Linked DNA regions of Homo sapiens: region 1 is linked to region 2. The links come from fine-mapping of genetic effects on gene expression. Tissue or cell type: tibial artery. Region 2 holds a variant in brackets; the other region holds the start of a gene. All regions are shown on one strand. Distances are between the middles of the regions.

What was found. PIP is the estimated chance that this variant, and not a neighbour inherited with it, causes the effect.
Region 1: CCNY-AS1 starts here. The variant in region 2 is fine-mapped to the expression of CCNY-AS1 in tibial artery (GTEx, PIP above 0.99).

What each region holds. Positions count from the first base shown.
Region 1 is chr10:35,334,462-35,339,558 of GRCh38, forward strand. CCNY-AS1 (CCNY antisense RNA 1) reads right to left here and starts at 1,963. Exons shown (of 4, transcript NR_186477.1): 1 at 1,759-1,963; 2 at 1,467-1,615. It overlaps CCNY (cyclin Y), which reads left to right and starts at 2,048. Exons shown (of 10, transcript NM_145012.6): 1 at 2,048-2,746. The coding sequence starts at 2,593. RefSeq lists a silencer at 1,674-2,413.
Region 2 is chr10:35,562,054-35,567,150 of GRCh38, forward strand. It overlaps CCNY (cyclin Y), which reads left to right. Exons shown (of 10, transcript NM_145012.6): 9 at 3,970-4,132. Among named protein-coding and RNA genes, the nearest start is that of GJD4, 41 kb to the right of the region's middle. RefSeq lists enhancers at 2,369-2,478, 2,539-2,648, 2,919-2,998. The variant A/G (reference allele first, on the strand shown) is at 2,444.

The DNA.
Region 1 (5,097 bases), 230 kb before region 2:
CAGACAATCTGAATACACACATGCAAGTGTAAATATGCCCCAGTTTTCCCAGGAAGCAGGAAAATCTACACAGCCTCAATGAAGAGCACTATTTTGGACTGTTGTTGTCTACCCACCCTCTCCAGGGCTTTAATTCTTTAGAACTTCCCTTTTACACTTCTTTTCTCATCTGGTCAGCATTACCACTTTGCAGCCACTTATTTTCCATGGACATCTGCCACTTATCCTAACAAATAGCATTAATACAGTTGAGAGCATGGAGCGTTTAAAATATGGACTAATAAATGTATAAACAGTACTTTGAGAGGGAGGGAAAGCACAGGTTAAAAAATGGCTAGATGTAGAGAATTAAATGAAATGTTTATAAAGCCGTTCACACGATGTCCACACATTGCTGATGCTAGATAAATATCAAGTCCCTTATTCCTTCTCTTACCTTTTAGTAACTGGATTTGTCACGAACAGGTACTGAGGTCTGCATAAATCAAGGCATGATTTCATCTCTGGGCCTCAGTTTCCTCATATATAAAATTAAGACAGTTGTACTATTGTACTAGTTTTTTTTTCAAGAACTAGTTCAAAAACATTCCCAGCTCCCACCCCCACCCCCCCACCCCACAAGACTCTCCTCAAGACTCCTTCAGTAAATATTTGGAAAAAGGGTGGGAAGTTTGTTTCTGCCACCTTATATTCTTCCCAATAAAGGCAAGAAAAGTCAGGGATGGCTGGCATTGTGGGCGTCGGGAGGGAATGCGAACCAACATTTACTCTACTTCTCTCCCAGCCAGGCATGTTCACATACCTTGATCTTAGTCAACTGGCCTAAGTTAACTTGTTCCCAACATGACAAAACCCGATGGCATTCTAAAAGCAAAGCAAAGCAAAGCAAGGGCAGTCGATGAGTTGTGTTAACTTAGTTTTCTATCTCATGTTAACCTCCAAGGAACTCAAAACAACTCCACAGCGAATTCAATATTAAAATAGCTCTGGGACCCCAAGATTTATTTCACAGCTTAAAGCAAGGTCACTATCAAGTCCTCGGCAAAGCTCAAAATACAATAGAAAACTCCCAAATCAAGCCCCAGCTTATTTAAATGCTTAGAAAAAAAAAATAGCCAGGTGCCGTGGCTCATGCCCGTAATCCCATGGGAGGAGTCCAGACGGGAGGATTCCTTGAAGACAGGAGTTCGATACCAGCCCGGGTTACGAAGCGAGATCCCATCTCTACAAAAAGTTAACACACACACACACACACATTCACCACCTTAGCCTGGCTTAGTGGCGGGCGCCCGTGTTACAAAGGGAGATCCCATCTCTACAAAAAGTTAACACACATACACACCCTACCTTAGCCTGGCGTAGTGGCGGGAGCCTGTAGTCCTCGCTACTTTGGAGACACACACACACACACACACCCGTAGTCCTCGCTACTTTGGAGACACACACACACACACACACACACACACCTTAGCCAGGCGTGGTGGCGCGCGCCTGTAGTACCGGCTACTTTGGAGGCTGAGGCGGGAGAATCGCTTCAGCCTAGGAGTTCGAGGCTGCAGTGAGCCGAGATTGCGCCACTGCCCTCCAGCCTGGGCGACAGAGCGAAATCATACCTCTAAAAAAATAAATTAGAAAAATAAAAAGACAAAAAGAGCCAGCCCGGTTTCGGAGAGGCAGGTGCAGCCTCAGCGCCCTGGGCCTGCGTCCCCGACCGGGCCCTGGCTGCGCTCCCGCCCGCTGCGGGCCCCGGGGACGCACCTCGCATCCCGCGCTGGGCCCCGTTCCGTCCAGCCCGGGGGAGTGGAGGAGGCAGAGGCCGGGTGGGGAAGGGCCTCCAGAAACCGAGCTCCCGACGACGTCTCCCGCGACCCCAGTGCCCGAGAGAGGAGCGGCCCCCGGGAGCGATCCCACAACCGCGCGGGGCTGCGCCGCCCCGAACCTCCCCGCGGCCGCCGATCTGCTTCCAGGGCAGAGGGAAGGGGCGGTGACGGGGCGGGGCGGGGGCTGCGGCGAGGGCGGGCGCCGCTGGCGAGGGAGGGCCGCCAGCATCCTCCCTGGCCGCGCCGCACCGCGCCGCGAGGAGTCCGGGGGCTGCGCCCACGCCCGCTGCCCGCCCGCTCGTCGGCTAGTCCCGCCGTCCGGCGCGGACACGCGTGCCCCCGGCTTGAACCGGAACCTCTTGCCGAGGCGGCCGCCGTCGCCGCAGCCGCCGGGGAAGCGGACACCAACTGGGGAAGCGCGGGGGGGAGGCGGCCTGCGCGGCGCCGCCCGCCATGGCCGCGGCGGGGTGAGGTAGGCGCGGCGGCCGCAGTCGCGCGGACCCGAGCGCTCCTCCGCCGCGGATAGGCCGGCCGAGGGGGAGCCGGGGCCGTCGCCCGCTCGTCGCCGCCGCCGCCGCCGCCGCCCATGGCGAGGCCCCGCCGCCGCCGCCGCTGCTGACCCGGCGGCCGGCCGCCGTTCCGCCCCCTCCCGTGGCGGCGAGCGGGCGGGCCTCCCCACACGCCCCCGCCGCCCGCGCCCCGCGTCCACCCGCGCCCCGCTCCCGGGGACTGGGAGAACAGGATAGCAGCAGGAGTCGGGGGGCCGCCGAAGATGGGGAACACTACCTCGTGCTGCGTGTCGTCCAGTCCCAAGCTCCGGAGGAATGCCCACTCCCGGCTGGAGTCCTACCGGCCAGACACGGACCTGAGCCGCGAGGACACGGGCTGCAACCTGCAGCACATCAGCGACCGGGAGAACATAGACGGTGAGTGCGGCCCGCCGAGCCCCCTACCCGCCCCCGCGGCAACAGTCGCACAGCCAACGTCGGGGCGGCCCGGCTGCTCTTGCTTGCCCAGCCGGTCTCGGCGACCCGTGCATAACCGGGGCTTCGCCCGCGCAGCCTAGGCGCCCGGGGCCCCGCAGCCTCTGGGCGTACCCCTCGCTGGTTACCCCCAAGTGAGCGGCCGCGGAAACTTTGCAGGCCCGCGGCATCGAGCACGGCGGGCCTAGGGCGGGTGTGTGCGCGTGGGTCGCGAGGTGACAGGAGCCGGCCCTCGTCCTTAATGGAGCGGCCAGAGCTGGGTGGGGGCGGCCCGGGAGCTCGGGGTTCCCGGCACTACCTGAATGCAGCCCGAAGCCAAGTTGTGCACGCGTTTGTCCTATAAAAGCGAAGTGAGTGGATTCCCATTTTGGAATCCCGGTGTCTCCAACCTCGAGTTGGAGAACCATGTTGAGTCAGTTCCCCGGAACCTTACAAATGGACTCCACTTCCCCCGTTCCCATTCTACCGTTTTTTTTAAAAAATGATTTTTTTGAGTGGCGGTTCCAGGATTAGTCAAATAGCTTCTCCCGAGAATGCTCTTTAAAAGATTGTCAGACACCTTTGGGTTAAGTCTCAGTTTTTGCATGGGCCCGAATTGCAGTCCTATGAATTTCTGATTTATTCAGGTGACTTTTGGTTGGTCTGGAGTTTGCAAAAAGAAAAAAAGCTAAGACTAATTACTGCACGCAGTAATGTTTTATTTATTTTATTGGTTTGGCAACATATTTATTAGCACTGTTGCTCAGTGATAACGACAGAGGGATATTTATGCATCATGCTTAAAATATAGTTTATAGAATTTTCAACTGAAAAGATTTGAAATTGGAAGTATCTTTTTATGACAAGGTGATTTTTTTAACCCAAACATCTTCTCATAGTTAATCTGGTTGAACTAATATGAAGAAATTTTTGTGTGAATGAATGAACACAACTTCATAATTCGTTCCTGTCCACTTTAGGATGGAAGATTCTCTCCACTGTGGAAAGGCCACATTTAAACTTTGCTAAAGGAAAGATTTTTCTCGTTTGTCTTCGTGTAATTTCTTCTAAATGGTAGTTTAATCTTTTTAGGAGAGCATCTTTATTAAATGAGTGCCATGTATAAAGGGAGTAACACAACGTCTGGTTTCTAGTACGCGCTTAGTAAATTATGGTTCCATATGACGTGTCTAGTGTTGTTATTTTAGATTTCCATTATTTTAAACATACGCTTAGATGTCTTTGAACTACAGCCATACTTTCTTCTTAAATTTATGCATTTAAAGGCATCTAGAAGGATGAAGGCCAGATCGGTCTTGATCACTTTCACAGCCTCTAGCACCTGAAAGAAAAGTCTAGCATATAATAAACAGTAAGTATTGTACTTTAAAGGGAGGAATAAATGAATGAGTTTATTACAGAAAGCCATTACCCAGTCCTATACTATGTTGACAGGCGAAAACATTTGGAAATAATGTCTTCTTTATGATGTGCAGTAAATTTCCTTTTTATGTTGTGCAGTATCTAGCGGAGGCTTTGTTTTGAATGATGGATCAAAAAAGAAAAAAAAGAAGATTTACATTTCTTAGAGCCAGGCTGCATACAGTTATTATAGACTATTGTAAGGAAATAAGGTGGAAAAAATAAGTGTAACCAGGTATTTGGCACTAAGGCTCAGTACAATTTTGCCAGAGTACAGTGAAATGATATTGTGTGTTCTTTCATTTCAAAGAAATCTTAAGTTTCAGTCATCAGGAATTTTTGAGAGAATGTTTGGAAGACTCTTTTGCAGATTCAGGATAGTTTGAGAGAGTATAGGGCAGGTTTCCAATCTAGGCTGTGGAGTGCCCTCTCATCCCAGATCCCAGTTCATATGATTATGCTAGTTTAAACCCCGAAATATTAATTCACCTTCTGTCTCTCAAATTCAATAAATAATACTTCTAGCATTGACCCAGCCAGCAGTTCTCAACATTGGTTTCAGTTAAACCAGAAATCTAGTACTGGACATTGCCATTAATATGTTTAAATCTCTCCAAGGTGATTCTGAGATGCAGGTAGGCCTGAGAATTGCTGGCTGGGCAAATCTTGGAAGTGTTACCTGCCGTTCAGGGACATTTTTGGTAGAAATTCATTATTAGAGGCTGAGAGAAGAGAACAGGTTTTAATTAAATAGAGTGTATATATATACACACTATATACATCTATATGTCTGTATTTGCTCATCTATATCTGTATGTATTTGAACTGAGTTATATTGATTGTTAGGTTATTAGTAAACATTTTAAAACTACATTTTAAGAATCATTGACTCT
Region 2 (5,097 bases):
CAGTGAAATTTCACCATGCAGAGTTCTGTAGGCAAAAATACTGTTAAAAAAAATTACACCTCGAGGTTTGTCTGTTTCTTGTTTTTGTTTTGCACTGTTCCCGTAAATGTCATTTTCATGTGTAGACAAATCCAAATAAGGAGAAATCAAGTGACTTGTCCAAGCATTGCATGGCACAGAAGGTCACAGAGAAAGAACTTCAGTTCCTCTGTAGATACCTGGTTTCTGGTGGTGTTTTGTTTTTAAATTGTAGTAAAATGTATGTAGCATGAAATTTATGATTGTAGCCATTTTTAAGTATACATTTCTGTAGCACTAAGTACATTTACATTGTTGTGCAACCATTACCACCATCCATCTCTAGAACCCTTCATTTTCGCAAACTGAAACTCTCCCCCTGTTAAACACTAACTTGCCATTCCTCCTTCCTCCAGCTCCTGGTGATCACTGTCCTACTTTTTGTCTCTGTGAACTTCACTACTTTCAGGACCTCACACAAGTGGGATCATACAGTCTGTGTCCTTCTGTGTCCAGCATATTTCACTTGCCAATAATGTCCTCAGGGTTGATCCATGTTGTAGTGTGTCTGAATTTCCTTTCTTTTTAGGGCTGTATAATACTTCACTGGGGGTCTGTGTCCCATTTTGTTTATCCACTCATCCACCCATGGACACTTGGGTTACCTCCACATTGGGCTAGTAAGTGGAGGCTGTAAGTGTGGCTATGCAGATACCTTTTCAAGACTTTGTTTCTCCTTCTTTTGGGAAGTGACCCTAGTTTCTAGAAAAGTAGGCAGCATATTAGATGATTAAAACAGCTCTTTTTAACATCATTTTAGAGTTCTATTTTCAAGTTGCTGAATTGTACCAAATTGGGTTTTTATACAGTGTTGATCTAGTGTGACAAATATTTCTGAAATGTGGTTTTTGTTGGTCGACTTGAATATATTTCTTACAACGTTTTACACCAAAACTGTTTCTTCATAGTTATCTAAATGCAGATAGTAAATCCATCAGGCCCATTCTTGGCATCACGTTAGTTTTCTGATAATTTATCACATAGCAAGCTGTCAGTGTCCCTGTAAAAGATGTGCTGCTGCAGTTTGGAAATTCAAGTTTTGGAAATTATTTTTATTTTCTAAATCTTTAGAAAAAAATTCATTTTTTGAAAATACAACAGCTCTAAAATCTATTTTCCCAAAGCTTAACCAGAAACTCAAGCTTGGAGAAGGTTGTTCTGTTTTCCAGGGAACCCTGGGAAAATACCGCCTTGTTCAAAAGCAGCTTCCTCTTGACTTTGCTCGTAGTGTCTGCCTCCATCTGGAACCATGGTGTCTGTATATCATTTTGGGCAGGATTATCAGGCTGTTCTCTTAGACTTTTCTTCTTACTATTGGGAGAATACGCTTTGCAGTGACGCCTGTTGACCACCAGACGGCGGTGTGTCCATGGCAGCTCCCAGGTTCACTTGGGATTTGCTCCTTTGACGTTTGACAGTTCTGGCCTTAGCAGGGCCTCTGACGCTTTCGTTTTGTTGAAGTCTTACCTGGATTCCAGTATTTCACAGGATGATCTCTTATTAAATCTCATTTAAATGAAGCATAAATAAAAGTTGTTTTAAGTAAAAATTATCCCAAATCAAAGTAAATTATTATTTATTTATTTATTTTTGGGACAGAGTTTCGCTCTCGTTGCCCAGGCTGGAGTGCAGTGGGGCAATCTCGGCTCACTGCAACTTCCGCCTCCTGGGTTCAAGTGATTCTCCTGCCTCACCCTCCTGAGTAGCTGGGATATTAGAGGTGCCCACCACCATGCCTGACTAATTTTTTTTTTTTTTTTTTGAGACAGAGTTTCGCTCTTGTAGTCCAGGCTGGAGTGCAATGGCGCAATCTTGGCTCGCTTCAACCTCCACCTCCCGGGTTCAAGTGATTCCCCTGCCTCAGCCTCCTGAGTAGCTTGAATTATAGGCATGTGCCACCATGCCCGGCTAATTTTCTTTGTATTTTTAGTAGAGACGAGGTTTCACCCTGTTGGCCAGGCTGGTCTCAAACTCCTAAACTCAGGTGATCCACCCGCCTCAGCCTCCCAAAGTGCTGAGATTACAGGTGTGAGTGACCACACCCAGCCTAAATTCTTAAAACTATGAAATTTAGTACAGTAAATACATTTGGAGCTTGTTATCACTCTTTTCACGAGGCTGTGTGGAAACAAGCAGTGACGCTCTTCATCTGATGAAGAGACCGGAATGGGCCTTCCTCGGGCCTCCTTCCTTGCCGCCTGCCCACAGGTCCCAGTGCTCCTTTCCCCAGCAGCTTCATGTCTCCCCAGAGCCACTGGCCTTGCTCAGCCCCAGCCTCCCCACCCGCCTCCTTACTGTTCTTGTCCTTTGTCACAGCAACTTGAGCTGGTGTGGAGCCCTCCTCAGTCCTTCATAGCTGAGTGCT[A/G]TGAGTCACCGGGAACAGCCATAGGGGTCTCGGGACATCACTCAGGACAGGATGGTGCCTGCATGTGAGGCTCAGACCCAGACCCTCAGCGTTCAGCAGAGTTGGCAGGACATGACTTAGAATGCCGAGGCTGGGATCAGGGTCAGGAGGGTGAGGCCCTGCACTAGGGCCCTGGCTTCACTCACAGGAAATGGTGACTGTGTGTTTTGGCTGCCTGCAGCAGGTTGGAGGGGACCCACTCTGCCTGAAACACCCCCTCCTCAGCCCTGGTTCCTCTCCGCCAGAGCTCCATGCTTCCCTCACCTCAGTTCAGCTCTCACTGCTGTGGGAAGCCTTCTGAGATCATGTGCTGGGGGCCAGGCATGCAAAAGCAGATGTTGCACTTCCTGACTATGAGGAGAACAGCCCAAGAGGCTGAGTTCAGCAGCCACATGCTGCATAGTGTGGGCAAGGACAGGAGGTTTCCTGGAGGGTGTGCAGTGGGTGGGCACCCTGTGGGTGGGCACCCCTGGGGGCTTCCTGGGGAGAACGTGCTGAATCTGAGTGCATGACCCAGGACCAGTGCTCCACAGATAGTTCCCTCACTGAGAAGGTTCCCCCCACCCAGAGGAACTATCTAGAAATAAACCTAATTTGAAAGATAGCTGACATGAGAAGTTCTTAAAGTAGAAGTTTTTGAATTTCTCCCAGCATTCCATCAACATGTAGATGGGTTGGCAGGGTGGATCTTAGCACCTCCTCTCCCAACCTACCTTTTTAGTTGAGTGGTTCTCAGAGTGTGGGCCCGGGGCAAGAGCCTCAGCCTCACCATCATCTGGGAGTTCCTTAGAAATGCACATTCTCAGGCCCCACTGCAGACCTACTGATCCCCACAGTGTGAAGGTGGAGCCCCCTGTCTGTTCTAACAAGCCCACCAGGTGATGGGGTGCGTGCTCAAGTGTGGAAACTACTGCTTCCATTCTTCCCGGCTTGTGAGTTCTCTTTTTAAGAGACTGAGGCAGAGACTGGACACCCTCCCCCCATAATCCCTGCCTTTTGCCTAAGAAAGCCCCTACACAGTTCCTCCCTTCTTTTCTCCCTGGAGGTAGGGAGGGGCCACCGAGGAAGCCAATGTCCTCTAGGTCTGCAGAGGCTGAGTGTTTTCCTCTGGGCCCCTGCGGAAGGGCCCTCACTGGACTCCACGTGGCAGCTCTTGGCTGCTGCATCCACCCTTTGTTAGCAGCCTGTCCTCACGGAGACCTGCAGCCAGAGCCTGCTGTGTGTGTGTTAGATCTCAGTGAAGTGATTCGCCCTGAAACGCTTCCTGGTGATGATCCCAGTTAACCAGTCCTCATCCTTCTGGGCACCAGATCAAGTGGATTTGGCTTTTAATCCCAATATGGTGGTCTAACCAGACATTTACTTAGATCACTGGTCTTCCTGGAGGATGCAGTTTTCTGGAGTCTGGTCTCCAGCAACTTGCCTTGGCAGGCCACGTGGCCTGGTGTGGCAGCTAAGCATAGGCTATTTTTGTCTTTGCTTTGCAGGAACGAGCTAGAGCGACAGTTTCTTGAATTGCTGCAGTTCAACATCAATGTTCCTTCCAGTGTCTATGCCAAGTATTATTTTGATCTTCGTTCTCTGGCAGAAGCGAACAACCTGAGCTTTCCCTTGGAGCCCCTGAGCAGGGAGAGGGCTCACAAGCTTGAGGTAAGATGGTTTAAAACAGCGTTTTGTGGTGCAGTGTTGCCAATACATCATCTGAGTACCAGAGATGCATGTGGTCACATTGATCATTTCCCCCACTACATGATGTAAAATAAAGATGAGCTACTAGGATATATAGCTGGGCAGTTGATTATGATTTGTTCTGCTTCTTTTTTCTTTGAGACGGAGTCTCGCTCTGTCACCCAGCCTGGAGTACAGTGGTGCGATCTTGGCCCATTGCAGTCTCTGCCTCCCGAGTTAAAGCAATTCTGCTTCAGCCTCTCAAGTAGCTGGGATTACAGGTGCCTGCCACCACACCCGGTTGATTTTTTGTATTTTTAGTAGAGATGGGGTTTCACAATGTTGGCCAGGCTGGTCTCAAACTCCTGACCTCAGGTGATCTGCCTGCCTTGGCCTCCCAAAGTGCTGGGATTACAGACGTGAGCCGCTGTGCCTGGCCAGCCACTTCATATTTTTAATAACCAGTTTAATATCACTTTATACTTAATAAGCAAAGGTTTTTTGTTTTTTTGGGTTTTTTTGAGATGGAGTCTTGCTGTGTTACCCAGGCTGGAGTGCAGTGGCACGATCTCAGCTCATCACAACTCCGCCCCCTGGGTTCAAGTGATTCTTCTGCCTCAGCCTCCCTAGTAGCTGGGACTACAGGTGTGCACCACCACGCCCAGCTAATTTTTTTTTGTATTTTTAGTAGAGATGGATGGGGTTTCATTATGTTGGCCAGGCTGGTCTAGAACTCCTGACCTTGTGATCTGCCCACCTTGGCCTCCTAAAGTGCTGGTATTACAGGCATGAGCCACCACAATTCTATTTTGAAATCAAATATTTTTTAAAACCCTTACCTTTACGGACAGGTTTAAGAAAATTATGTCCCCCCAAAAAGCATTTCCCGCAATATAAGCCCCTCAAAAAGATACTTCTCAGCATGCGCTTTCATAGGAAAAAGCTGC